3 separate regions of the Homo sapiens genome follow, and all the other regions are linked to region 1. Evidence: fine-mapped expression QTL. A gene starts in region 1. Each other region holds a variant in brackets. All regions are shown on one strand. Distances are from middle to middle.

Region 1 (7,195 bases):
CTGGGAGGCCAAGGCGGGAGGATCACGAGGTCAGGAGTTCGAGACCAGCCTGGCCAACATGGTGAAACCCCATCTCTACTAAAAATACACACACACAAAAAAATCAGCCGGGCGTGGTGGCTCACACCTGTAATCCCAGCTACTCCAGAGGCTGAGGCAGGAGAATTGCTTAAACCCAGGAGGCAGAGGGTGCAGTGAGCCAAGATCATGCCACTGCACTCCAGCCTGGGCGACAGAGCAAGACTCCGTCTCCAAAAAAAAAACAAAAGAAAGAATTCAAAAGTCACACAAATATCAAACCAAAAGGGACTGGTTCCTCTATTGGGAATTGAACCCAGGCCATGGTAGTGAAAGTACAGAATTTTAAGTAGTTTCCAAGATGCAGCAGTCTTCATTGTGAATCCTGCAGGGATCCAAAGCAATGGTTTGCGCGCACAAAGGATTTTAACTTGTTACAGGTCAGATTTTTGCTCTTTAATTTTGTGAAGAGGATTTCTAAGGCTAGCCACAACATTATTATGTGTCTTTCCTTTAATCTCCCCACAAATACAAATAAGGCAATTGTTTAGAATGAGAGACCTCTAAAATCTTTTTTTTTTTTTAATTTAGGGATCTTTCTAATGTAAAGGATTCATCTTTTGGCTATTGACAATCAGAATTTCCAATGATGTATTTATTCCAATAGCAACTCAATCCAAGAAGCCCCTTCATGGAAAGCCCAAAAGATTATTTTCCAGGTTTAGAGAGGGCATAGAAGAGGAGGTTCCAATGATGCCCCCAAAATTCACTCCCAGGAATAGGCAAAGACAGCAAAAGACTCTTGTTCCCAGAGACAGTTAAGGAACGTGTTTGTACATACAGTGCCTCCAGTAACACACAATCTGTCAGGGGCTGCCAGTCACAGACCCATTAACCTGTAACACAGGGTAGGCCTGTTGGGATTGGGCTTTCTGAGGACTGACCAGGCAACAAACATTGGGATGACAAAAGCCCCTTATGGATGGGCCTGAGGAGAGCAAAAACCACCTGGCGACCATCAAACATCAAACAGGCCCTCCGAGGCAAAACTCCTTATCTGGGGAAAATCAAAAGTAACTAAACCTCCCTATTATCTAAAGCAGGCATCTGGTTCCAGATTTCTTCCCCCAAAAAACGTGTAAGTAACTATAATTTCTATGTGTCTCCAGAATACCATGACGAAACTCACTGTACAACCGTCGCTGACATTAAGGCACCAAAATTACTATAAATGTAATCATTTATCATGACTTACGTGGCTAATATGGTCCAAATTACTGTTAAGCCTCCACTTTAAGGCCTATAAATGCCCTTAAGGAGAAATCCACCCGGCGTACTCAGTCCTCTTGCTGAGGCACCTCATTGCACTCTTCTGCAGCATTCTAATAAACTTTCTTTCTTTTCTTTTTTTTTCTTTTTTTTTTTTTTGAGATGGAGTTTCACTCTTGTTGCCCAGGCTGGAGTGCAATGGTATGATCTCAGCTCACCACAACCTCCATCTCCCAGGTTCAAGCGATTCTCCTGCCTCAGCCTCCCAAGTAGCTGGGAATACAGGCTCCCGACACCATGCCCAGCTAATTTTTTGTATTTTTAGTAGAGATGGGGTTTCATCATGTTGGCCAGGCTGGTCTTGAACTCCTGCCCTCAGGTGATCCACCTGCCTCAGCATCCCAAAGTGCTGGGATTACAGGCGTGAGCCACCGTGCCCGGCAAACTTTCTTTTTTCTTTTTTTTTTTGAGACAGTCTTGCTCTGTCTCAGCTCACTGCAACCTCCGCCTCCCAGGTTCAAGCAATTCTCCTGCCTCAGCCTTCCAAGTAGCTGGGATTACAGCCACGCACCACCACACCTGGCTAAGTTTTATACTTTCAGTAGAGACAGGGTTTCTCCATGTTGGCCAGGCTGGTCTCAAACTCCTGACCTCAGGTGATCCACCCACCTTGGACTTCCAAAGTGCTGAGAGTACAAGCATGAGCCACTATGCCCGGCCAAACTTTCCTTTTTCAAACCTATTGTCGGTAAACTCTTTTTACCAACCCGCAAGTTGACCACCACTCCCAGTGCCGGGGCTCTGACAGCTCGCCTGGCAGGGACTTCTTAAGACAAACTAAAAGCTTGACACATTCAGAACAAAAACGGTGCTGCTTAAAATATTAAATGTCTTGGGTTCCCAACCATTTTCAGACTGACCACAAAATGTGACCTGCGAGTCACTACCTCGGATTGGCAGAGGCCAAGAGAGTGCTCCTGAGGTAGGAGGTGGGACTTAGTTGACCCAGTTGAGGATTGGCTAAAACAGGGTTGGGGCAATAGCAGCTTTCAGTCAGATATGCCCGCCACTGTGCCATGTCAGTTTACCATTGCCATGGCAACACCCAGGAGTTGCCACCCCTTTCCATGGCAATGACCCAATGATGACTACTCCTTCCCTAGAAACTTCTGCATAAACCATCCTTTAATCTACATGCAATCAAAAGTGCGTATAAATGTGACTGCAAAACTGCCCTGAGCTGCTACTCTCAGCCTACGGGGTGGCCCTGCTCTGCAGGAGCAGTCACAGAGCTCTAACGCCACCTGTTCAATAAAGCTGTTTTCTTCTACCTCTGGCTTGTCTTTGAATTCTTTCCTGGGCAAAGCCAAAACCCTCACTGGCTAAGCTCCACTCTGGGGTCTGCCTGGCCTGCATCATTCCCACTCGCTCACAACTCAAGCTTTCAAGGACATCAAAAGAGAGGAGAATCTCATCCAGTTTTCAGTTCAGGGACCCACAGCAAAGTCTGTCTAACTAGACGCATCCGATCAGAGCTGCAAAACTGACTAGCCTGCAGGACGGCCCCAAGACGGGGTTTACAGGGGTTTTAGGCCTGTGTTCTACCCTCTTTATGACAGAAAAACACAGAAAGACAAGAATGAAAGACGACTATTTCTGGGGAAAAAAAGCAATCAAACAATATGAATACAAAACTAATCACATAAATACATTTCTCTCATTAAAACTTTGAAGAGGAAAACAAGGTAAACAGACATTTTTACCGTCGGCTTGACAAGATTCCAGAGAGGCCGGGAGCCTGGCTGCTAAGACCTTCTTACCCTTCTTTCTGCCAGCTTGTCGGCTCCTGGGTTCCCCTGACGGAGGCTCCCAGGAGAGTGACTTTAGTTATCCTACCGACTGCACCAAAACTGTAGGAGCCTAGAGAAAAACTTTTCTGCATTCTGAGTTCACAGAAAATCAACTGACAAAAGCCAGGTTAGTAAGAAAAAAGGCATACAGATTTATTCATGCACACAGGGAGAACCAGAGTGATGACCCCAACCTCCCAATGGGGTTCGGAAGCTTATATACCATCTTGAGGTTACAGAAAGAACATGGGCTCAAAGTATGGCCACAGTTTATGGTGGAAAATCAGGTGACCAGTGGCAAGACCGGTTACAGGAGGGAGAGCAGAGGAGGCCTGGCTAGCAAAGGTGGCCTTGTTCTACAGATGAAACCTCACAGGTAGCAGCCCTGAGAGAGAACAGATGGTGAATGTTCCCTTCAGGCCTTTAAAGGCGTCAGACTGTTACTCTTCCCAGATCAGGCAAGGAGGGCCTCAGAGGAGGCCTGGCCGCATCAGTGTAGATTCTCTCCACAGATGCAAATCTCCCCCACAAAAGACAGCTTTTCAGCTATTCTTCTATTTCCAGTCCTTCTGAGTAACTGTCTTGAACCGTGTCAAGGAAATATATTTGGAGGTGACATATTGTGTTTTCCTTCAAGATCAAAAAGGTTAAGTCCAAGGCTGCCCAACGAGGGAGCGAGGACCCAATCACGTTGTCCTCAGATGAGTTTTTCCCCAGCAGCGTAACCCTGCAACAGGCCAGACTGGACCCCAGACACACATTCCACACCACACCACGCCTCCACCACCACACGCACACAACAGACACACCCTAAACACCAGACACACACACACACCTCAACCACCGCAAACACACATACGCCACACCTCTAACACCACACACACCCAACACCACACACATACGTGCCTCAAACACTACACACACCTCAACCACCATACACCTCAACCACACACACCCCTCAAACACCAAACACACCCCTCAACCACACACACACACCCCTCAAACACCACACACCCACCTCAAACACCACACACACATATCCCTCAAACACTACAAAAACACACACACACACCTCAAACACCACACATGCACACACACCTGAAACACCACACACCTGCCTCAAACACTCCACACACACCACACACAGACACGTACACAGCCCCCCGCACCCAGCCACAGCTTACACGCACACAGACACGCGTACGCAGGAGAAAGGGTGTCAAAGCTTTTGCTAGTCGTGAAGGAAGAGCCCGCAGTCCATGGGGCTGCACGGTTTTCCCTGCCATTTGCTCATTCACCGGGTGCCCATAACGCTCCGCGCTCAGGTCTCTTACAGGAGGGCCCGAGTCTCCCAGTACCGGAGGTCTGGGGGCGCACGAGCCGCTCCTCCTCTGGAGAAGCTCCGGACCGAGAGGACACCGGACACTGCGCAGCGCCGAGCCCCGCGCGCAGCCCGGGACGCCTCAGCCAGGGCCGACCGCGCAGAGGAAGCTCCCAGAGCCCGTTTCAAGACCGCAGCCAACAGCCTCAGGCGCACACGGCGGCCTCGGAGCGAGCACGCGCAGCAACGCCCCTCGCCCCGGCCCGCCCCCGGCCCCGCCCCCGGCCCCGCCCCCGGCCCCGCCCCGCAAGGGTCACAGGTCACGGGGCGGGGCCGAGGCGGAAGCGCCCGCAGCCCGGTACCGGCTCCTCCTGGGCTCCCTCTAGCGCCTTCCCCCCGGCCCGACTCCGCTGGTCAGCGCCAAGTGACTTACGCCCCCGACCCTGAGCCCGGACCGCTAGGCGAGGAGGATCAGATCTCCGCTCGAGAATCTGAAGGTGCCCTGGTCCTGGAGGAGTTCCGTCCCAGCCCGCGGTCTCCCGGTACTGTCGGGCCCCGGCCCTCTGGAGCTTCAGGAGGCGGCCGTCAGGGTCGGGGAGTATTTGGGTCCGGGGTCTCAGGGAAGGGCGGCGCCTGGGTCTGCGGTATCGGAAAGAGCCTGCTGGAGCCAAGTAGCCCTCCCTCTCTTGGGACAGACCCCTCGGTCCCATGTCCATGGGGGCACCGCGGTCCCTCCTCCTGGCCCTGGCTGCTGGCCTGGCCGTTGCCCGTCCGCCCAACATCGTGCTGATCTTTGCCGACGACCTCGGCTATGGGGACCTGGGCTGCTATGGGCACCCCAGCTCTACCACTCCCAACCTGGACCAGCTGGCGGCGGGAGGGCTGCGGTTCACAGACTTCTACGTGCCTGTGTCTCTGTGCACACCCTCTAGGTAAAGAGGGGGCCGCGCCTCTTCCCCGCCCCGACCCTCCATCCCTTTCCTCCCAATGGATTGCAGGGGGGCGGGAAAAACGTCTGTCTCTCTCTCTAGGGAAGGCCACATTTCTGTCTGTCTCAGGGACTCTGTGACTTGTCCCGCAGGGCCGCCCTCCTGACCGGCCGGCTCCCGGTTCGGATGGGCATGTACCCTGGCGTCCTGGTGCCCAGCTCCCGGGGGGGCCTGCCCCTGGAGGAGGTGACCGTGGCCGAAGTCCTGGCTGCCCGAGGCTACCTCACAGGAATGGCCGGCAAGTGGCACCTTGGGGTGGGGCCTGAGGGGGCCTTCCTGCCCCCCCATCAGGGCTTCCATCGATTTCTAGGCATCCCGTACTCCCACGACCAGGTAGGAACCACCCGGGCCCTCAGCCACCCTCCCACCTCCCAAAGTCCCCCAGCCCTTGATGCTCCCGCAGCCCCACCTGCCAGCCCAGCCCTCACGGCAGCTGCCCGCCTCAGGGCCCCTGCCAGAACCTGACCTGCTTCCCGCCGGCCACTCCTTGCGACGGTGGCTGTGACCAGGGCCTGGTCCCCATCCCACTGTTGGCCAACCTGTCCGTGGAGGCGCAGCCCCCCTGGCTGCCCGGACTAGAGGCCCGCTACATGGCTTTCGCCCATGACCTCATGGCCGACGCCCAGCGCCAGGATCGCCCCTTCTTCCTGTACTATGCCTCTCACGTAAGTGATCTTGGCCCAACCCCCTGGCTGCCCGTGACCCCTACCCAGTGCTAACTCCAGTCTTTGCCCCCAGCACACCCACTACCCTCAGTTCAGTGGGCAGAGCTTTGCAGAGCGTTCAGGCCGCGGGCCATTTGGGGACTCCCTGATGGAGCTGGATGCAGCTGTGGGGACCCTGATGACAGCCATAGGGGACCTGGGGCTGCTTGAAGAGACGCTGGTCATCTTCACTGCAGACAATGGGTATGCCAGCAGGGCAGCTGGGTGCTCCGGCCCTGTCACGGGCCAGGGCCCTGGAGGCCTTGCAGTTCAGCTGCTTGCCAAGAACATAGTGGGTGAGGGGGTGCCAGGAGATGCTGGCCACGTTGCAGGGGCCCAAGGTGTAGTCAGGAGACACAGTGCACAGAGAGCTGGTCTTGGTAGGCCTGGGAGGTGCCGGGCTCATGCTGGGCACCTCCGGGCAAGCTTTGTGACTTAGAGGTGTGGGGCCACTGGTCACCCTCGGTGGCTCAGAGGCTGTGGCTCCATGGCTCATGAGCGCCTCCTGTGTCCCAGACCTGAGACCATGCGTATGTCCCGAGGCGGCTGCTCCGGTCTCTTGCGGTGTGGAAAGGGAACGACCTACGAGGGCGGTGTCCGAGAGCCTGCCTTGGCCTTCTGGCCAGGTCATATCGCTCCCGGTCAGTCCGCAGGCCCTCTCCTTGGAACCCTGGCCCCACCACCCCAACCTTGATGGCGAACTGAGTGACTGACCAGCCTCCTGCCCCCAGGCGTGACCCACGAGCTGGCCAGCTCCCTGGACCTGCTGCCTACCCTGGCAGCCCTGGCTGGGGCCCCACTGCCCAATGTCACCTTGGATGGCTTTGACCTCAGCCCCCTGCTGCTGGGCACAGGCAAGGTAGGGCCGGTGACCCCTGATCCCAGATCCTTGGCCCCTGTCCTGGCCTTCCCCTGGGGTGAGTGTGGGCAGTGCCTGAGAGTCTGTGCCTCAGTGCCTCCTGCACTGAGTGGCATCCAAGTGGCGCCACCTCTCAGGTTCCTGGGTGGGCAAGAAGCGGTGCACGTCCAGGGCCTCCCACCAGG
Region 2 (8,036 bases), 81 kb before region 1:
CTTCCAACTCCAATCTGCAGCTGTTCACAGCACCTGCTGATTCTACCTCTGCAATCTGCTTAGCATTGCTGGAAGGAAGGAAGGAACTCCCCAAGCTTAGCATTGCTGGAAGGAAGGAACTCCCCAAGACTGTCCTGTACCCAACCCAGACCAGACCCACCCTGTACACTGACTCTGTCCTGACATAACCTCTTTGTGACCTCTGTGTCCTCATTGATAAAACAGGCATAAAAACAGTGCTCGCTCACGTGTCTCTAGTGAGAATTAGCACAGAAGAAAGGCTTACAACTGTGCTGGCACTGGACACAATTCAGTACAATTCATGTCTGTGTGCCCCATCTCCCCAGACAGCTTCCGGGTCTGCAGAACAGAGCAAATACTGTTCTCTGTGTTCCATCAGCGCCCAGCCTGTGTCCTGAACGATACAAGAGTTTACCAGCAAAACAGGCTCCAACTGCAGATATCTGGGCCTGTGCACAGCTCCCAGTGCCACCAGGTGACAGGGGCCCAGGTACAGACCAGGGGCTGCTGGTTTGAGGGGACTTCTCATTTGCTTTTGTCATGAAGTGAATGATTTCTTTTTGGGAGTTGAAGTCACCATTGCCACCATCTGTTAAGTTCTTGGTGATTTCTAGAGTATGCGGGACTTTATGCAAACCACTCCTCTCATCCCACAACTACACGAGGATTTTATCATCACCCTTATCCAACCCAGGAGCAAACTGAAGCGAAATTGCCATAAATCTCTGACTAGGAAGTAAGAGATGAGACTTAAGCACCATACTCCCCGGAAACTGCAGAAGTAAAGATATGAATGGAGAGAAAACTCCGTGAGGCACACACGGCTCAGCATCATGGGAGACACGTTGCCGCCTGAGCCACGGGCTAGGAGAGGCTGTCTCTCTAGGTCTGGAAGACCCATCCCAGAGACCCACAGCGGGACGCACATAACGTTTAGTGAGCAGCTGTTTCTGGTCATCCGGCGATGGTGCTGGAGCCGGGTGAGAAGTGTTTTCAAAAGGGAAAGGATTCATCAAGAATTCTGCAAATTACAAACTGATGAGGTTGACATAAATCTCCCCCCAATATTAGAGGATATATTCTTAAATAAATAATTTTAGATAATTAAGGGAAACAAAGCCCATCAGGAACCAAGTGGACCCGCTCACTCCCAGGGCCCTCTGGGTGCACAGCAGGACACAGCTGGGTTTGCAGCTGTTTGATCAACAGGGCCCCAGCCTGCGGGATGATCAACCAGCCATCACTTCTTCCACAACTGGAGCAGCACCTGGGCTGCAACACAGCACCCTGGGAGCCCCACTAACGAGCTAGAGGGCAGAGCCAGAAGATTCCAGAAATAGCTTGTATGTCTGCCCCAAAGGCATGCAGAAAAGGTCACTGGAGGAGACCTTGTCACCTGTTTTTAATACCTGAGAAGACACTGGGGAAGCCCTTCACCTGGGCTGGGGCAAGAGGCAGCAAGGGGACCTCAAGAGGGCTGGGCCAAGGGCCTGGCAGATGTGTCCTCACCCAGGGAAAGCCCAGTGGGTCGAGAGAGAGGGAGGGATGGGCATCAGGTACACGGACGTGGAGCAAATATACAGGCCTGGGTGGAGAAAGCCACCTCAAGCCTCTGTCTGGGCCCTGATTCCCATCCACCCGAGAGGCAGAGGAGGCTGCCGGAAGCCGGGTCCCAGGACTTCACCAGACAGTGGACCTCAGTACCCAGGCCCAGGTGACTGTCCCCACCTGAATGCGCCCTCCCCTGCAACCAGGCTGAACATAAAGGACATACAGGGAGCAGCCCCAAAGGGTAGAGGGAGGCCTGAACGGGGGTTCAGGAGGGTAGTCAACAGCCTGGGGTCTTTGGCCAGGGGAGCTCCAAGCTCCTTCCCCAGTGCTGTGGGACTCAGACCCCTGCTCTGAAGGGACCATCAGCTCTGGGCTTGGCCCTACAACCAACCAGCACGGGAGTAGGTCCCACAACCCAAGCACAGGCCCCGAGAGGACCAGCAGAAAGAAGCAACGTGCACGCCAACACGGCCCAGTCTCCCTGCTCCCTAGAGCTCCCCCTCTGGGACCCTCGGAGCCCTTTCCCTCCTGCTGTCCGGGCCATGGTGCATGCAGTGGCCTCCACGGGGCTCTCCCAGCTCCTCCCCACGGGCTGCCTCCATCAGGCTATCTGCACAGCTCACAGGCCCCAGGCTCACCTGAGCCCCCAAGGCCATCACAGTCTCAGAGGGTCACACCCCTGGGAACTCCCCATCCATCCTTGCAGGCCCTTCTCTCATGCCCCTACCAGATGCCCAGGGAGAAGGCCAACAGGAGGGTGCAGCCCAGGCTTCCAGGCCACCCTGACTTGCGCTGGAACCTCCTCACACACCAGCACTCCCCCAGACAGGGGTCAGGCAAAGCCAAGGCCCTGGGGACACAGGCAGATGACTCACCCCCTTTTCTTCTCCGAATGGAGGCTTGGAATCAAGAAACAGAGTAAAGGGAGTAAGAGGCAGGCTCGGCACCCGGGCCCCATTATCCACACTCATTTCCCCACCCCATCCCTCTCACCACCACCTCCCCCAAAAACCATGACCTCCCAAATCTGCCCCCAGCCTACACCTCTTTATCAGACCGTGAATAGCAAATCTGCCCAACTCTGGAGTCAGTTGGTACATGCCTTGAAAGCCAAGGAGGAAACAACCACAAGCAGGGACTTGTGTGTGTGTGCCACATGCATGCAGGTGCACACAGCGCATGTCCACTCACCCACGCACAGACATGTGTGCTGCATGCACGCAGGGGCACACAGCGCGTATCCGCTCACCCACGCACACACGTGTGCCACACGCATGCAGGCGCACACTGCATATCCGCTCACCCACGCACAGACGTGTGCCACACGCATGCAGGCGCACACAGCGCGTATCCGCTCACCCACGCACAGACGTGTGCTGCATGCACGCAGGTGCATACAGCGCGTATCCGCTCACCCACGCACACACGTGTGCCACACGCATGCAGGTGCACACAGCGCGTCTGCTCACCCACGCACAGACATGTGTGCCACACGCATGCAGGCGCACACAGTGCGTATCCGCTCACCCATGCACACACGTGTGCCACACGCATGCAGGTGCACACAGCACGTGTCCACTCACCCACGCACAGACATGTGTGCCGCATGCACGCAGGTGCAGACAGCGCGTGTCCGCTCACCAACGCACAGACACGCACACACACACAGATATGCACAACTCCATCATGCTTGGCTCAGTCAAACGTTTGTTCAGAAAAAAGGCAAAACCCCATAGAAAACAAGTTCAGGTGTCGCTGAAAATTAAGGTGGTCACCTCTGTGTTCTGTTCAAAGTCGGTCTTAAAAGGCAGGGCAAGTGTGTTTGGCACAGAAACCTTTTCCAGGACAAGGCCACTCACATAGATGCTGGGTGTGGCACCTACCCTGATGTTCTCATCACAAAAGAAAAAGGGGCCCAGAAATTACAGGGAAGTCCAGAGTTCTCCCGGGAACGTGAATACACAGGAAGGGCTTGGACCCGCCACAGGGCCTTCCCTGGCCTGGGTCTCCACTGACCTGTGGCCCCAGCACATTCCTGGTACAAACCGAGCAGACATGCATGTGGCGACCATGAGGAGCCCCCAGTGCTGAGGGGAGGAGGGGTGTTCTGCCCTCTTCTCTCTCTCACCACCTATCTCAGGAGGGTCCCCACCCAGCCCCTTCCTCTCACTCCCAGCTCTGCAACCCTCCATTTTCCAGGCACCAGCCTTTGCTCACCCCATTCCCCCACAGGATACCCCTTCCCTCCCCTTCCTCCAACAGGGCCATGCCTCTCCCACATCCTCCGAGCAGCAAACAGCCACCTGGACAGGAGCCTCCGACTTGCACCTGCTTTCTCTGACACCTCACTTTCTTTTCTTTTTAGGTGTCCAGGCACCTTCTCGATAGACTATGGATCCTAAAGGGCTCTAATAGCTCTTGACAGTGTGAGGCAGTTCTGATGTGTTCATGCCAGCAGTGACCAACAGGCCTCATTTCTATCTTCTGAAAGCAAAAACACTGGGTTGTGGGATGGTCCCTTAGGTACCTGGGGAAACCCTGATGCTGGCATGGCGTCCTCAAATCAGGCATTTCCAGAGGGGACTTCCAGAAGCCCTGCTGGCTTCCCAGGACAGCTGTCTTCTGGGGACAGGGTGGCTTCCTGAGCTCCAGAAGTGTGGGTAGAGGCTCTGCGCTAAGCTGTCCCTTCATCCTCCCCCAGACTCTGCTCAGAAAAAAGCCTGGAAAATTATGGTGGCCTGAAGCTGTGAGCAACTCCTCTGGAAGACCGGGCTCTGCAAAGTGACTCCAGCAACCTGTCCTGAGGCTTGTTGCAGAAGAGGGAACACTCAGCCCAGAGGGGAGGGAAAGGAGCGTCTTCATTCACCAGTTTCTTCAGGCAGAAAAGCCCAGAGAGCAAAGCGCAGTCCTTCCGTTTCCATAGGGCAGAGTCCCTGGGTCCCAGGATTACGGATCTCAGGCTGCCCAAAAGCCCCGTGGTGCTGAATAGAAGAGTCCCTTCTGAACATGCAGCTGACTGTGGCTATGTGACAGCCTCTGGCAGGAGAATCCTGGGACCCAGCTGCCTACTGGTGCTGGCTTATTGATCAGTTTGGATCTTCAATTGACAGGTCAGCTCCCCGTGACTGACCTTGGACCCTCATGACCCGAGTGCCAGAGGTCTAGGATTAGCCTCTCTGCCTCACTCCTGAATGAGCAGGATTAGCGGGGTATAGAATTCTAGGTGGAAAAGAATTTTGACTCCACACTTTGAAGCTCTTCTTCCATCATCTACTGTCATCTGCCACTGCTGATGAGAAGTCTGTTGTCAGTTGGACCACTGCTCCCGTCTAAGACATCCAGCAGCCCATCTCTCTCTCTCTCTCATCATTTTTTGCTTTGTTTTGTTTTGAGACAGGGTCTCGCTCTGTTGCCCAGGCTGGAGTGCACTGGCATGATCTTGGCTCACTGCAACCTCCACGTCCCAGGCTTAAGCAATCCTCCCACCTCAGCCTCCTGAGTAGCTGGGACCACAGGCACACACCACCATGCCAGGATAATTTTTGTATTTTTAGTAGAGATAGGGTTTCGCCATGTTCCCCAGGCTGGTCTCAAACTCCTAGACTCAAGTGATCCACCTGTCTTGGCCTCCCAGAGTGCTGAGAGTACAGGCATGAGCCACCGCACCCAGCCTCTCTCATTGTTTTAAAGATTTCTGCTTGCTCACAGCATTCTACAGTTTTACTATGAAAGATGTGGATACAGATTTGTTTTTATTTCCTTGCTGAGACTTATATTTCTTTAAACTGAAGACTCATGTCTTTGTTCAACTTTCGGAAATTCTTAAGCCATCTCATCTCCAAATATTGCCTCCAGGCAACATTTTATTTTTGCTTCCACGCCTTGCATTAGGTAGATGCTGGGATTTTCCCAATAGTCCCATTGAA[T/C]TATCTATGTGATTTTTGTGTGTGTGTGTCCTAACTGCTCTTTGATATTTTCTATCTCCTTATATTTCTGTGCTATATTCTGGGTAACCTCAGATTTATCTTCTAACTTGCTGTTTCTTTCTTCACCTGGGTCTAGTGTACTGTTTATCCCAGGCATGGCTTTCTTTTTTATCTCAGTGACTACACTTTTTGTTTCAATAACAGTTCTTTAAGAATCCTTCTGGCTGGGCGCAGTGGCTCACGCCTGTAATCCCAGCACTTTGGGAGGCCGAGGCAGGTGAATCACAAGGTCAGCAGTTCGAGACCAGCCTGGCCAACATGGTGAAACCCCATCTCTACTAAAAATACAAAAAATTAGCTGGGTGTGGTGTTGTGCGCCTGTAATCCCAGCTACTCAGGAGGCTGAGCCAAGAGAATCACTTGAACCCGGGAGGCGGAGGATGCAGTGAGCCGAGATCGCGCCACTGCACTCCAGCTGGTAATAGAACGAGACTCAGTCTAAAAAAAAAAAAAAAAAAAAAAGAATCATTCTAAAATGTGCTTATTCTTTTTTTGCTTGTTTGTTCTGTCCTATTCTCTCATTAGTTCTGTTAGTTCTTTTAATCTTTGTGACAATTTACTTTATTTTAATGTTTTTCATATTCTTCTCTGATTTCCAGTTCTTTCGAAGCTAATTCCAGTGGTTGGGCTTGGTTTTTAACCTTCCCGCTTCTCACAGGTCCAGCCACGTCTCCCAGCCTTGTGGGGGCCTCAGGACCCCAACCCCTTGCCCCTGCGTACTAGATAACGAGCTATGGAAGCCTCTGGCTTTGGTTTCTCTCCTTTTCATTCTGAATTATCTACATGGGGTTTTTTGTTTTTTTCTTTGGGTTTTATTTTATTTGGAATAGCTATGGTGAAAATTCTGACCACGTCAGCCCAATGGACGTTGGTAGCTGTTCTCCACCCTGAACTAAACTGCAGTTAAGACCACCTGCTTGGCATGGGGCAGCTCAGCCTGTGGCAAGGACAGGGTCAGGGCTTGGTTCATGAGTGAGGTCAGGGATAATTCTGGGGACCAGGAAAAGGGTTCCTTCTATGGCTGGGGTAGAACCAAGACTGAAGCCAGGGATAGGGCTCAGCCTAGAACCAGAATGGGGTCCCTTCCTGTGGCCAGGACTTCAGGGTTCAGTTTAGGACCAAAGTTGGGGTTCCTTCTATGACCAGAGGCAGAGTTAAGTCTGGGAACAGAACTGGGCTCAGATCACAGAAAGAAAGAGCCTCACGCCTGTAATCCCAGCACTTTGGGAGGCCGAGGCAGGCAGATTACCTGAGGTCAGGAGTTCGAGACCAGCCCGGCCAACATGGTGACACCCCGCCTCTACTAAAAATACAAAAAAAAAAAAAAAAAAATTAGCCGTGCATGGTGGCGGGTGCCTGTAATCCCAGCTACTTGGGAGGCTGAGGCAGGAGAATCACTTGAACCCAAGAAGTGGAGGTTGCAGTGAGCCGAGAACGTGTCATTGCACTCCAGCCTGGGCAACAAGAGTGAAACTGTCTCAAAAAAAAAAAAAAAGAAAAAAAAAAAGAAAGAAAGAGCCTGTCAACTGTCACGTACAGTGGGACATGCCCATGACGAGGCTGTTGATGGCCACATGTATAGCACATACCCACAGTGAGGACAACGGTCACACGTAATGGGACAGTCCCATGAAGAGGCTACTGACTGTCACGTCAGGACATGATCAAGTATATCTGGACGTGCACATGACAAGGTTGTTAATGGACACATATATAAGACCTGCCCATGAAGAGGCTGTTGATGGTCAACCAGGGCTTGTGCCCAGAACATGCCCCATCAAACCCCAACACACTCCTGCTCCCCTCCTGCCGCGCTCGAGGCCCTGCCCCATCATCCCACCGACAGTACTCCTGTGGCCTGTGGGGTCAGCAGGGCCACCTGTCAATGAGTGCACAGTCACCAAGAGGGTAAAATAAACACAGAGCTGACACAGCCAGTGCCTGGCAGAGCCAGCAGCAGACCCTGGTCACCTCACTACCGCTCTCTCCTCACTTGGATGAAATGCAGGAGTAAAGTCAAAGTGGAGACGTGGAAAACCAGAGGCAGCACACGCACACACATGCACACACATGCAAACATACTGGTGGGCCAGGCCCTGCTCCCCGTCATCTGTCCTGGACACCCCACTGTCCATCCCCAGCCTCTCACATCTCACCCCTTCCACATGCCACCCTCTCCTCACCCCACAAGCACCAAATTTCCCCATCGCGCCAGCACCCACCCATTCACCTCTGACCTGCTCTTGTACCCACCTGTCCTTCCTACCCTCTGGCTGGACCGCCTGCCCTCCCGTACCACCTGTGTCTCCCGGCCCTGTCTGCCCATCATGGACCGTCCACCTGCGTCCACCTCCACCGCCACCCCCGCCACTCACCAAGTTCCTCGAGCTCAGCTGTCATGGACTTGGAGCGCAGGGTCAGTGTGGTGCTGGGGGCCCTCTTGGGGGGCGGTGGGGCTGCAAAGAAGAGGGAGGCCTT
Region 3 (10,849 bases), 26 kb after region 1:
GCTGTCTGGTCTGCGCCCCTGCCCGCTGTCCCACCTCTCCACCCCAGAGCTGTCCCTGCTGTCTGGTCTGCGCCCCGTTCGCTGTCCTGGTGACCCCAGAGCTGGCCCCACTGTCTGGTCTGCGCCCCTGCCCACTGTCCCACCTTTCCACCCCAGAGCTGGCCCCGCTGTCTGGTCTGCGCCCCTGCCCGCTGTCCCACCTCTCCACCCCAGAGCTGGCCCCGCAGTCTGGTCTGCATCGCTGCCCGCTGTCCCACCTCTCCACCCCACTGAGCAGCGTTTCCGCATGGATCCCATCAGACCATCTCTGCACTCGGCGGGGACAACACAAAAGGGCTCCGCACCTTCCAGCAGGCAGCACCCTCACTCTCGACCACAGGGAGAGTCCACAAGGCCCCCAAGATGCACTGACGTCTGTCCCACGCCTCAGTCCTGGCAGCACCGTGCCCTGCTGTGTCTTGCCTGTCTGTGAGCCTGCTTCCTCCAACTCCCCGCAAGTCCTTTCCAGCCTCTGGCTGGCTCTGCCTCTCTGGTTCCTCCCAGATCTCCTTCCTCTAGGGTGCTGGGACACAGAGGGCAGGGGCCTGTGCCTGGAGGGAAGCTGGCAGCCCCCCTTGGCCTGCTGCTCCTATGCCAGCACCTCCTCCTCCCCTCCTCCCCTCACCCTGCCTGGCCATTCCCCTCTCGTCTCAGTGATCTACCTGCTCTGACCTGGTATCTTCCCTCCAGGTCTCCCTCCTAAACTCCAGACCCATGGGACCAACGGCCACTTCAGTCTCACCGTTTGTGATTGATCCCGCATCCCCTCTCGGTGTGTGGGCTGCAGTACAACCATCCCCCAGGGAGACGTCACCCTGGTCTCTTCCAGGTCACCCTCTACAGCCGGTCAACCTAGGTCCTGCCTGTACTGCCTCTTCAGTGCCTCTTGCATCTGCACACTTGGTCTCAGGACATAGCACCTGTATAACCTCAGCAGCCCCCAGGTCCCCTGTGTCACCTCCTTCCATTAGGAGCCTTCTATGGCCTCATTACCAGCAAGATTAAGTACAGCTCCTTGGCATAATCAAAAGGGTCCAGGTCTTCCCCGGCATTTCTAGCTGCTCCCCTTACACGCGGGCCCCAGAGCCTATATAGCCCCCGACCAGTGCATCCCACACCCTTGGCTCAGCTAGACCCCACCAGGAAGATCCACTTCCCCACCGCTGTCACCTGCTGTGTTTCCAGGCTGGCCATCCTGAGCCCCAGGCCCACTCAGGCGTCCTCTGCACCCACACAGGCTTCTCACATCCTTCGCCCGTGTGCCTCTCTCCACCCAGACTGGATGCAAGCCTGTCTGACCCACGCCTCCTGAGTCCAGCTCAGAGCAGGCGCCACTGCAGGCTCAGCTCACAGAGCTAAGTGGGTGCAGGTGGAGCTCTCAGGGCTGGGCACGGGCAGCCCTCAGGGTCTGTGGGGACTCAGGGGGCGGTTGGACTCTCAGGGTTTGTGGGGGCGGTTGGGGGACTCGGGGACGGTCAGACTCTCACCAGCTGTTGCGGGGATGGCAGCCGCAGAAGGAGATGTTCTTCATCTGGAAGAAATGGCTGCAGCGCTGGAACTAGAGCAGAGGTGGGCAGAAGTCCCTGTGTCAAAGGAGGCCTGGCGCCACCCCTGCCTCCCACCTACTGGACACCCCTGCCAGCCTGGCCCCGTCGGACTCCGTGGCCTAACCCTATCCCCCAGTCCCCGGTCCCCAGTCCCCCACACTCCCACCTCGGGCCCTCCTCCGCTCAGACTCAGCTTGACCCCCCGAAGAGAGATCTCGAGGTCACAGGAGGCAGGAGGGCGCAGGTGGACGGTCAGTTTCCGGGCAGTGGCAATCTACAGAAGAAGTTGGGGGAGAAGAGGGTCTTGAGGAGCCCACAAGGGCCTTTCTTTCCCCTTGGTGGGACTACGCCTCTGCTCCTTTTAGCTTATGTTTGAGGACACACATGCTGAGGACCCTGAGATGCAATTCTGGAAGACATAAGGGGTGTGGCCTTGGCCACTCCTCAGGCTCAGGAGGAGCAATCGCCTCTCTGCAGTCAGCTTGCTTCATCTTCCTTCTGCTCCTCCAGGCAGGCTGCTGCGCTTGGCTCAGGAGCCAGGAACAGAGACCTCACCCGCCCTGGGCTGCTCTGCCCTGCTCCCTACTGCCCCCCAGCCTCAGCCTCAGTACTGGTGCCTGGGCAGGTGCTCACTAAACGTCCACTGAGTGAGTGGATGAGTAGAGGGCTCCCAGGGAAGGGGCTGTGAGGGCTGGTCTTGATTCCAGATGGGAAGAGGAAGGGCTGATGGCAGTCGGGGCCACCTGGAAGATCTGTGGCCCAGAGACCCAGAGGTGATGAGGGACAGCTGCTGTGCTCTGCCCTAGACTCACCTGCTCAGGCCTCTGAACCAGGGCCTGGGGTACCCACCCCGAGCTCCCCCTGCAGCATCCCCCAGACCCTCCCTGGAGGAAATCAGACCTCAGACCTTGGAGCCTCAAGCCCTGTGCCAGCCTGCAGTGCTGGTGTGGCCGCCAAGCGGACCCTCAGCCTGCACTTGCCCGGCCTCCACACTGACCTTCTGCATGGCTGCACACAGGATGCCGTTGCCCTGGTGGCAGGGCACCTCCACGGAGCCCAGGAACTGCACGTCAAAGCGCTCCACCCAGCAGGGGCTCCGCTTACTCCCTGGGGAGCGGGGCACAGAGGGCCCAGGTCAGGCAGGGGCACAGGGGAGGATCTGGGGTGAAAAGCCTCCCCTCGGGGTTGGGACCTCACCCAGCAGGTCCTTGGCAGGGCCGGGCACCGCATGGGCGTAGAAGGCAGGAAACACACCGCGCTCCCCCGTGCGCATGTTGAAGCCACGGAACCAGAAGTCGTCCTCCTCGGCCTCCACCAACACAGGGTCATCCACATCCAGCTCCAGCTCGTCTGGATGCCGCGGGATGAACCTGCCGTTGGGGGAGAGGTCACTGGGGAGGGGGGCGGGATTGACGGTCGTGTCCACTGGCGTTCCGTGATGGCAGGGACTGAGGCTGGGGCCACCGCCAGCAAGGAGGGAGGCCGTACCTGAACACAGCCCGGTGAGTCTGCTCTCGCTCCTCGCCGTTGACCAGACAGGAGAAAAGGCCAAAGGACTCGGTGCCTGGGAGACCCGGCAGGACAGAGGCGGGGGAGACAGGGAGACAGAGTCAGAGTAGTGCTTAGAGGCCTGGCCTTGGGCAGAGGCCAAGTCCCCTCCACAGTCCGGTGTAGGTGTCCTACGAGCGGGAAGGAGCTGAGGCAGAGCAGGCCACCTCATGCCATGTCCTGGGTGGGAGAGGGCACCCAGCCCTGACCACAGCCAGACCCTCAGGTGGCCCTGGGCACTGTGGGGGACCCTGGGACTGGGGCCAGGGAGTCTGCACCTTCCTCTGGGCCACCCCCCTTTTCCCCACCTCTCACTCACTGGAGGACCGAGATGTGCTGTTGACGAAGACATTGAGGAACTTCTTGGAGAAAGTGAGGTCAGGGCTGTCCGGCGAGGTGTCCCCCGAGACCTGACCGCCGCCTAGCAGCGCCGCGCCCGCCTCCTCCTCGCTGGCCTCCCCGCCGCTGTCCTCTTCGCTGTCGTGGCCCAGCCCAGCACAGCGCCGCAGGCTCACCAGCTCCAGCTGCGTGTGCTCATCCACCACCAGCGTGTACTTGACCGCGTCGTACACCAGCGACGCGTCCCGCGGCGCCGAGGGGCCCGTGCCCCTGCCCCCGGGGGACCCCGCACTGTCCTCGGCATCCTCCTCTTCCTCGTCGTCCTCTTCGTCCTCCTCCTCGGAGCAGGCGGCGGAGCAGGCTCGTCCCGGGCGGGCGGCGCGGCCGGGCGCGGCCCACAGCGGCGTGATGGTGTCACGCGTGGGGTTGCTGAGGAATAGGCAGGGCCCGGGCTGCGCGGGGCCGGGTCGAGGCGCGGCGGGCGCGGGCGGCGGCGGCGCGCACAGCGTCTCCATGTCCACCAGCTCCACGCCGCCGGGCCCCGCGGCCGCCTCGGGGTCCTGGGAGTCCTGGGCGGCCCCGCCGGCCGGCGACACGGGCTCCCCGGGCGGGCGCGGCGCAGGAGACAGGCACTGGCCGGGGCAGCGGATGGGCGAGGAGCCCTCGGAGATCATGCGGCTCACCAGGTTGCTGAGCAGCCAGGGCGAGTCCGCGTCCTCGCTGAGGTCCGGCTCCGACTCCGACCCCGACTCGTACTCGCTGTTGGTGTCGTCGGGGCCCACGGGCAGGAAGGCGGGGCGGCGCGGGGGTTCGCGCGGGGGCTCCGGCTCCGAGGCGGGCGACGAGGCCTCCTCGATGGAGTTGGTGAGGTGCGAGGAGCGGCCGCTGCTGCTGCTTCCGCCATCGCTGCTCAGCTCCAGCTCCGTCTCCGAGATGGACGAGATCATGCGCCCCAGGCGCGCGCCGCCCGCGTCCTCCGAGTCGGAGCCGGGCGAGGACAGCTCCTGGCTGCTGCGACGTCCCCCGCGGCCGCCGCTCGAGCGGCTTCTCAGGTCAGCCTCGATGCCGGGATCTGAGGAGGGCGAAGTCCCCCCTGGCGCAGGGGGTTCCGCAGGCCGGTTCCCTTCGCAGTCGCAACCCGGGCGCACTGGCGACTGCGCCCCGCCGGGCCCGGTGTCCGTGGCAGGGAGGGGGCCCGGGAGCTCTGCTGGGCAGGGAGGTGGGGTCACCCTCTCTGCACCACCCAGGCCTCTTCCAGCAGCCAGTCCATCCTCCCTGCCCTCCTCCCCCGCTTCCCCGCGCCCCGCGGGCCCACCACCCCTCACCTCTGAGGGCCTCCGGGGCGGGTGAGCATAGCGCTGTCTCCTGCCAGGAGGCCGGACGCACCAGGTCAAAGCCTCCGTTGTTGTTTAGGGAGTCCTGGGGTGGAGATACATGACGGCGGTCCTGAGGAGGGCCAGCTCCCAGGGGGTGAGCAGGGCTGGCTGCAGCCCAGGTGCTATGAACCCAGGCTCAGCTCCAGGGAGCTGTGGGTCCGGGCACTCACCTGGGCCCCCAGTGTGGTCAGACGGAGGGTGGTGGGCCGGTGCTTGTGGGGCTCCTCCACGGAAGGGGAGGGGATAAGGGGCCCGGGGGCAGGTGCCTCTGAGCCAGGGTCTCCTCCCTCCTGGCCTTCCCCATCTCCCTCCTCCTCCTCCTCCTCCTCTTCCTCGTCCTCATCGTCCTCCTCTTCATTGTCATCGATCATCTCAAACTCCTGGAAGTCATCCTGGAAGGAGCAGATGGGGTGCGGCTGCTCCGAGCGCCCCAGGGAGAGGCTGTCCTGCAGGACGGAGGGAGATAGCAGGGCTGGGCCAGAGGGCAGCAGTAGCCCAGGGGCCCAGGTGCTAGGAGAAGGGAAATCGGGGAGCATCAGTCAAAGGAGAGCCCCTTCCAGCTCACTCTGCCCCTCTGTCTACAGGGCGATGTTTTCAAAATCTGCCTAACACACATTGGGATCACTCCAGTTCTTGGGAAGGGCCTAAACTCTACAGCTGAATGACAGGGATTCTCAGAGCAGCCCCAGCCCCACTTTCAGACTCATCTAACTGCAGAACCCCATCACATTTGACACCAGCACTGTGTTCCCTTC[G/A]CAGCGTTTTAACACAACTTACAGTTACTGGACATGGTTTTTGGTCTGTTGCAAGCCCCACCAGGGCAGGGTCATGTCCATGTTATGCACTGTTGCACCCGCCCCCAAGAACAAGACCTGGGGCTCAGCGGATGTTCAGTAAACATCAAACAGATGCAGAAATGGAGAGACAGCCTCTGCACTCTGAGGATTCACCAACTTTGCGCCAACCCCAGGGCCATTGGCACAGTTATTCCCCATGCTGGCACTTCCTCTCCTCCATTCCCTCCTACCTACCCCATCTGCCTGGCTCTGCTAACCTCAGGGCATGGTTGACATTTCCTCTGGAAATTCTCCCTGATTCCTTCAGTGTGGATTGGGTTCCCTTCCCCCTCGTGGAACTTATGTCCCTGTTGGAATGCAGCCCTTGACACGTGGGCAGCCATTGTCCCTTACAAGTCTTTCTCCCCTACTAAGTTGCAGCTCCAGAGAGCAGCTGTCCTGTTCCACTCCCAGCACCCAGAAGCCCCCAGTACTTGCCACATGGCAGTTGCTCAGAAATGTTCTTCAATAAATGAAAGCAGAAATGTGGAGAGACAGGGAGGAGGAGAAGCAAGAGATGGACGAGAAAAGATTTCAGCAGGGGGAGACATGAAACAGACAGATGGGAGCTGCAGACGAGGGCACAGGGCTGCAGAGGGGACAAGGTTGTGATGGCAGCTGCCAGGGATTAGATCTTTCTGGGAGTGATCTGAGGACAGAGGGCACCCAAAGCAAAGGAGCACCTCCCTGCCCCGGGCTGGCCACCGATGGGGTCGGGGAGAATGCTGGGGAAGGCCCTGCGTGGAGGCCTGCAATGTGTTGGAATAAGAGAGAGTTGATACCAAGGAAACCTCAAGGGTTAAGTGGGGAGGAGCCATCAGAGGAGTCCCCGGTTCAAGGCTGAGCTCACACCCACCCTAAAACCCCAAGTGAACGCTAAGAAGAACCTAATGAGGCCCTCCCTTGAGCTGGATCTGTGTCCCCAACTCTTCTCCCACCTTCTCACAGTGGTCTGAGTCGTAGCTGAGGCCCAGGCCACAGTCATCAGTGATCTCAGACAGATCTTCGTCGTCAAATTCTTCCAGGCTTATGTCCTGGGGAGGCCTGGAAAGGAGACCAGGGTCAGAGAGCCACCAACCCTGGACTCCCTGCCTGGCAACTGGCCCTGAGGAGGGGCAGAGGGAGGCGTCAGCTCCTACACCCAGTGGTTTCCACAGCCCCCAGCTCTCGGAACACATCCTGCCATCATCTTGACCCCCAAGCTCTGCTCGCCTGTGGATCCCCTCCCCCATCTGAGCCAGGCCTGCCCGGAGGAGCCAACCCTGCCCCCACCCCTCCCACCCCGCCTCCCTGGAGAGCCAGCAGCCTCTCCTCCCTCCACTCGCAGCTCCAGGCCCCTGGGGTCAGGGTCTTGCAGAGCAGGGGAGGGGGAGCTGCAACGCGGCAGCGGCAGATGGGGAGGGGTCGCTCCTGCTCTGGGAAGAGAGTCTGGCCTGTTTGTCTCCCCCTCTCCGGCGGAGTGAGGCCTAAACCCAGAGGCCCAGCGTCCTCCCAACCCCAGTCCCTTCCCGCAGGGCTCCGGGCTTGATTTCCACTCTCTCCCGGCCGGGCCCTATCGGCCAGGTCTGGCGTCCACTGAAAGAGGCCAAGGCCACCGGGACACGCCGCGCCGGGAGGGTGTGCCCGCATCCCGCCCGCATCCTCCCCCGCAGAGGGTCGGCCCAGGGCCTCCACCCTTGACAGGTCAGCCGTCCAGGCCGGGCGCGGCTCAGAATCCCGGCGGGGCCCGGGGGTCACTGAGGCTGGGGACGCGCGGTGAAGATGGAGGGAGTGGGAGCGGGGTGGGGGTGGGGCGCCCGAGCCGAGGCTCAGGGACCGCAGGGGGCCGGGGCCGGGTCCGCGCCGGCGGCGGGGCTGGGGCGGCGGGGACGGGGGTCCGGGCCGGGTCGGGGTCGGGGGGGTGCGCAGGGAGCGGAGGGTCCGCCCGGCCCGGGCGCCGAGGGGGGTACCTGCAGCCCGGCGGCGACAGCGAGTGGAAGGTGGAGAGAGAAAACATCTCCGCGCGATCCGCCATCTTCTCCGGGAGAGGCCCGCGACTGCGGCGGGGGGTGCGGGAGCCTCGCCGCGCCCCGCGCCGGCGCTCGGCCCGCCCCGCTCACCTCGTGACACGCCCTGCGGCGTCCGCCCCGCGCACCTCGCCCGGACTCCGCGGCGGCGCGGGGAGGGCGGCGGGGGAGGCGGGGGAGGGACGCGGCCGGGGACGCTGGTTGGAGGAGAGGCGGCGGCTTCACTGCCGGGCGCTGGTTGGGGAAGGGCCGGGCGTGCGATGAGGATTTTTCCCGGGGAGGGGCGGGAGGGAAGGGGCGGGCGGGTGGGCGTCGGGCCCCGCCCTGGAGGACCCGCGCGGGGCGGGAGGCCGAGGAGGCAGCGCCGGGGTCCGCGGGCCTCGGGTTCGCCGTGGGCTGTTTCCTCTGGGCGAGAGGCCGGGGCGGCCCCGGGAGCTGCGCCGCCGCGCCCAGGATCCCCCCAGGAACCCTAACCCGGGTGCGGCCCGGAGCGGGGTGGCGGGCGAGGCGGGAGGCGCGGGAGGAGCTGTCCGCCGTCGGGTGCTGATCGGAGCTGTCCCCACGGGGTGCTGACCGGGGCTGCACGGGGACGTCTGCACGAGGGTCGCCGAGCAGGGCTGGATTCAGAATCGAGCACAAGGTACTCAGAGGATGCTGGCTGGGGCTAAAAGTGGACTTTGAGCACTCAGTAGAGACTGCACAGCCGGACGGACGTACCGACGGGCACTGGGAGAAGTTAGCACCCACGGAGGCGACATGCGTCCCACTGGAAACACTTTTTCTTGGGCACCGTGTTGCTGGGCCCTGTGTAGGGAACTGACCCGCTCTGGCTTGGGATGGAGCCCTGTGGGGAGGGCCATGGTTGAAGCTGAGCTCGAGACGGTGGCTGTGGGAGGAGGCGGGAGATCAGGGTTGAGGGCGCAGAACTAGGGAGAGACTGCAGGACACTTTTTTTCTTTCTAAAATAGAGACCGGTGGCTGGGCGCGGTGGCTCACGCCTGCAATCCCACCACTTTGAGAGGCCAAGGCGGGTGGATCACGACGTCAAGAGATCGAGACCAGAGACCATCCTGGCCAACATGGTGAAACCCCGTCTTTACTAAAAATACAAAAAAATTAGCCGGGCGTGGTGGCGGGCGCCTGTAGTCCCGGCGACTTGGGAGGCTGAGCCAGGAGAATCATTTGAACCCGGGAAGCGGAGGTTGCAGTGAGACGAGATTGCGCCACTGCACTCCAGCCTGGCAAGAGCAAGACTCCGTCTCAAAAAAAAAAAAAGAGAGAGAGAGAGACCGGCTCTCTCTGTATTGCCCAGGTTGGTCTCAAACTCCTGGGCTCAGCTATCCTCTGGCCTCAGCCTCCCAAAGTGCTGGGATTACAGGTGTGAACCACAGCACCTGGCTAAATATTGGCTAAAGAAGGAGGCTGGCATTTCAACAAAAGCGCAATCCCTTTTCCCCCTTGATGAAAGTTATGTGCCCTAAGATTTCTTTATGTCTTAGTTCTGCGGAAAATTCTTTTTTTTTTTTTTTTTTTTTTTTTTTTTTTTTTTTTTGAGACAGAACTTGCTCTGTTGCCCAGGCTGGAGTGTAGTGGCACGATCTCAGCTCACTGTAACCTCCACCTCCCGGGTTCAACCGATTCTCGTGCCTCAGCCTCCCGAGTAGCTGGGATTACAGGCAATCACCACCATGTCCGGCTAATTTTTGTGTTTTTAGTAGAGATGGGTTTTTGCCATGTTGGCCAGGCTGGTCCCAAACTCCTGACCTCAGGTGATCTGCCCTCCTTGGCCTCCCAAAGTGCTGGGATTACAGGCGTGAGCCACCGCCCCTGGCCTGGAAAATTATTCCTTAGGAAAGGACAAGGCACTTGAGTGACAAACACCAGAAACGACATGGCAGAAGGAGCTCATGCAAGTCGGGAAGGGGGGTATCACCATTCCAGCTCAGAGAGAGGCCTGTGGCCAGGGCCTGATTGAACCTGCACTCTTTGGTGTCCCATCACAATTTATATTTTATGCCAATTACAGTATTTTTCTAAGAATGGCATTTACTTGGCTGGGCACAGTGACTTACACCTGTAATCCCAGTACTTTGGGAGGCCAAGGTGGGTGCGTCACTTGAGCTCAAGAGTTTGAAACCAGCCTGGAAACATGTCTCTACCAAAAATAAAAAAAATTGGCCGAGCCCAGGAGGCAAAGGTTGCAGTGAGCTGAGATCACACCACTGCATCCAACCTGGGGGGCAGAGTGAGATCCCATCTCAAAAAAAAAAAAAAAGCCATTTACTAGTTTATGCTTGCCTTCTTGACTTGGGTTGGCTGGAGAGAAGAGAGGCTGTCATCTCTCTGTGAAGCCCTAGGCTCCAAGCATGGTGCCTGGCAAACAGTAGGTGCTTAGCAGACATGTGAATGAATGAATGAGAGAGCTTATGGTCTCTAACCCAGTCTGGGGCATCAGGTCTTTGCCATAACAGTCTTTTCCCTTTTAGAAGCACTAAGAACATTCCCCATTTCTGAGGGAGTCTGGGCCTATTAACCACTCCCTGCCTTTCCCAAAAAATCCAGATCCCTTCCCAGATTTCACAGAGAGTTTGACCTCAACTTTCCAGATTGGCTTTTGATCCTGAGTCTTTTCACCAAACTGGTTCATCTGGACATCCACATAAATGACCCATCCAATACCCTGGTCAGTCAGTTCCTTGATTTCTGATCTGTCAACAGTCTTTAATACTCAAGTGTAGTGACCTCTCCCACAAAGTGCCTCCAGGATCTACCTTCATCTGGAATTGCAGCAAGCTTAAAATCTTTTTTTTTTTTTTTTTTTTTGAGACAGGGTCTCACTCTGTCACCCAGGCTGGAGTGCAGTGGTGTGTCCCTAGCTCACTGTAGCCTCAAACTCCTGGGCTCAAGGAATCCCCCTGCCTCAGCCTTCTGAGTAGCTAGGACCACAGGTGCACACTACCATACCTGGCATTTTGTTTGTTTTTGTAAAAACAGGGTCTCACTATGTTACCCAGGTTGGTCTTAAACTCCTGGGCCCAAGCCCAGGTGATGGCCTCCCAGAGTGCTGAGATGACAGGCATGAGCCACAGCATCCAATCTGAAGTCTTATAGTCTCAAATTTCATCTTAGATCCTAATCCCCAAAACCTTCCTCAAGCC

Direction of the effects. Alleles are on the strand shown, and positions count from the first base shown. SD is a standard deviation of normalised expression in the study named. Not every link is listed here.
As copies of T replace C in region 2, the expression in neural progenitor cells of the gene that starts at base 4,794 in region 1 goes down (moderate effect, 0.52 SD a copy in Aygun 2021).

Evidence for each region.
Region 2: its variant is fine-mapped to the expression of ARSA in neural progenitor cells (Aygun 2021, PIP 0.95).
Region 3: its variant is fine-mapped to the expression of ARSA in whole blood (INTERVAL, PIP 0.97).

What each region holds. Positions count from the first base shown.
Region 1 is chr22:50,625,751-50,632,945 of GRCh38, reverse strand. ARSA (arylsulfatase A) reads left to right here and starts at 4,794. Exons shown (of 8, transcript NM_000487.6): 1 at 4,794-5,390; 2 at 5,540-5,780; 3 at 5,894-6,112; 4 at 6,186-6,355; 5 at 6,668-6,792; 6 at 6,883-7,010. The coding sequence starts at 5,167. It overlaps LOC124905149 (a long non-coding RNA gene), which reads right to left and starts at 1,452. Exons shown (of 2, transcript XR_007068161.1): 1 at 1-1,452. RefSeq lists a silencer at 4,710-4,899 and an enhancer at 5,834-6,616.
Region 2 is chr22:50,706,050-50,714,085 of GRCh38, reverse strand. It overlaps SHANK3 (SH3 and multiple ankyrin repeat domains 3), which reads right to left. Exons shown (of 25, transcript NM_001372044.2): 20 at 7,934-8,014; 21 at 2,448-2,471. Among named protein-coding and RNA genes, the nearest start is that of ACR, 28 kb to the left of the region's middle. The variant T/C (reference allele first, on the strand shown) is at 5,499.
Region 3 is chr22:50,597,669-50,608,517 of GRCh38, reverse strand. It overlaps MAPK8IP2 (mitogen-activated protein kinase 8 interacting protein 2), which reads right to left and starts at 7,725. Exons shown (of 12, transcript NM_012324.6): 1 at 7,635-7,725; 2 at 6,624-6,729; 3 at 5,020-5,295; 4 at 4,799-4,892; 5 at 3,454-4,677; 6 at 3,075-3,150; 7 at 2,784-2,956; 8 at 2,584-2,693; 9 at 1,753-1,860; 10 at 1,527-1,597. The coding sequence starts at 7,699. RefSeq lists an enhancer at 6,846-7,346 and a silencer at 8,136-8,315. The variant G/A (reference allele first, on the strand shown) is at 5,605.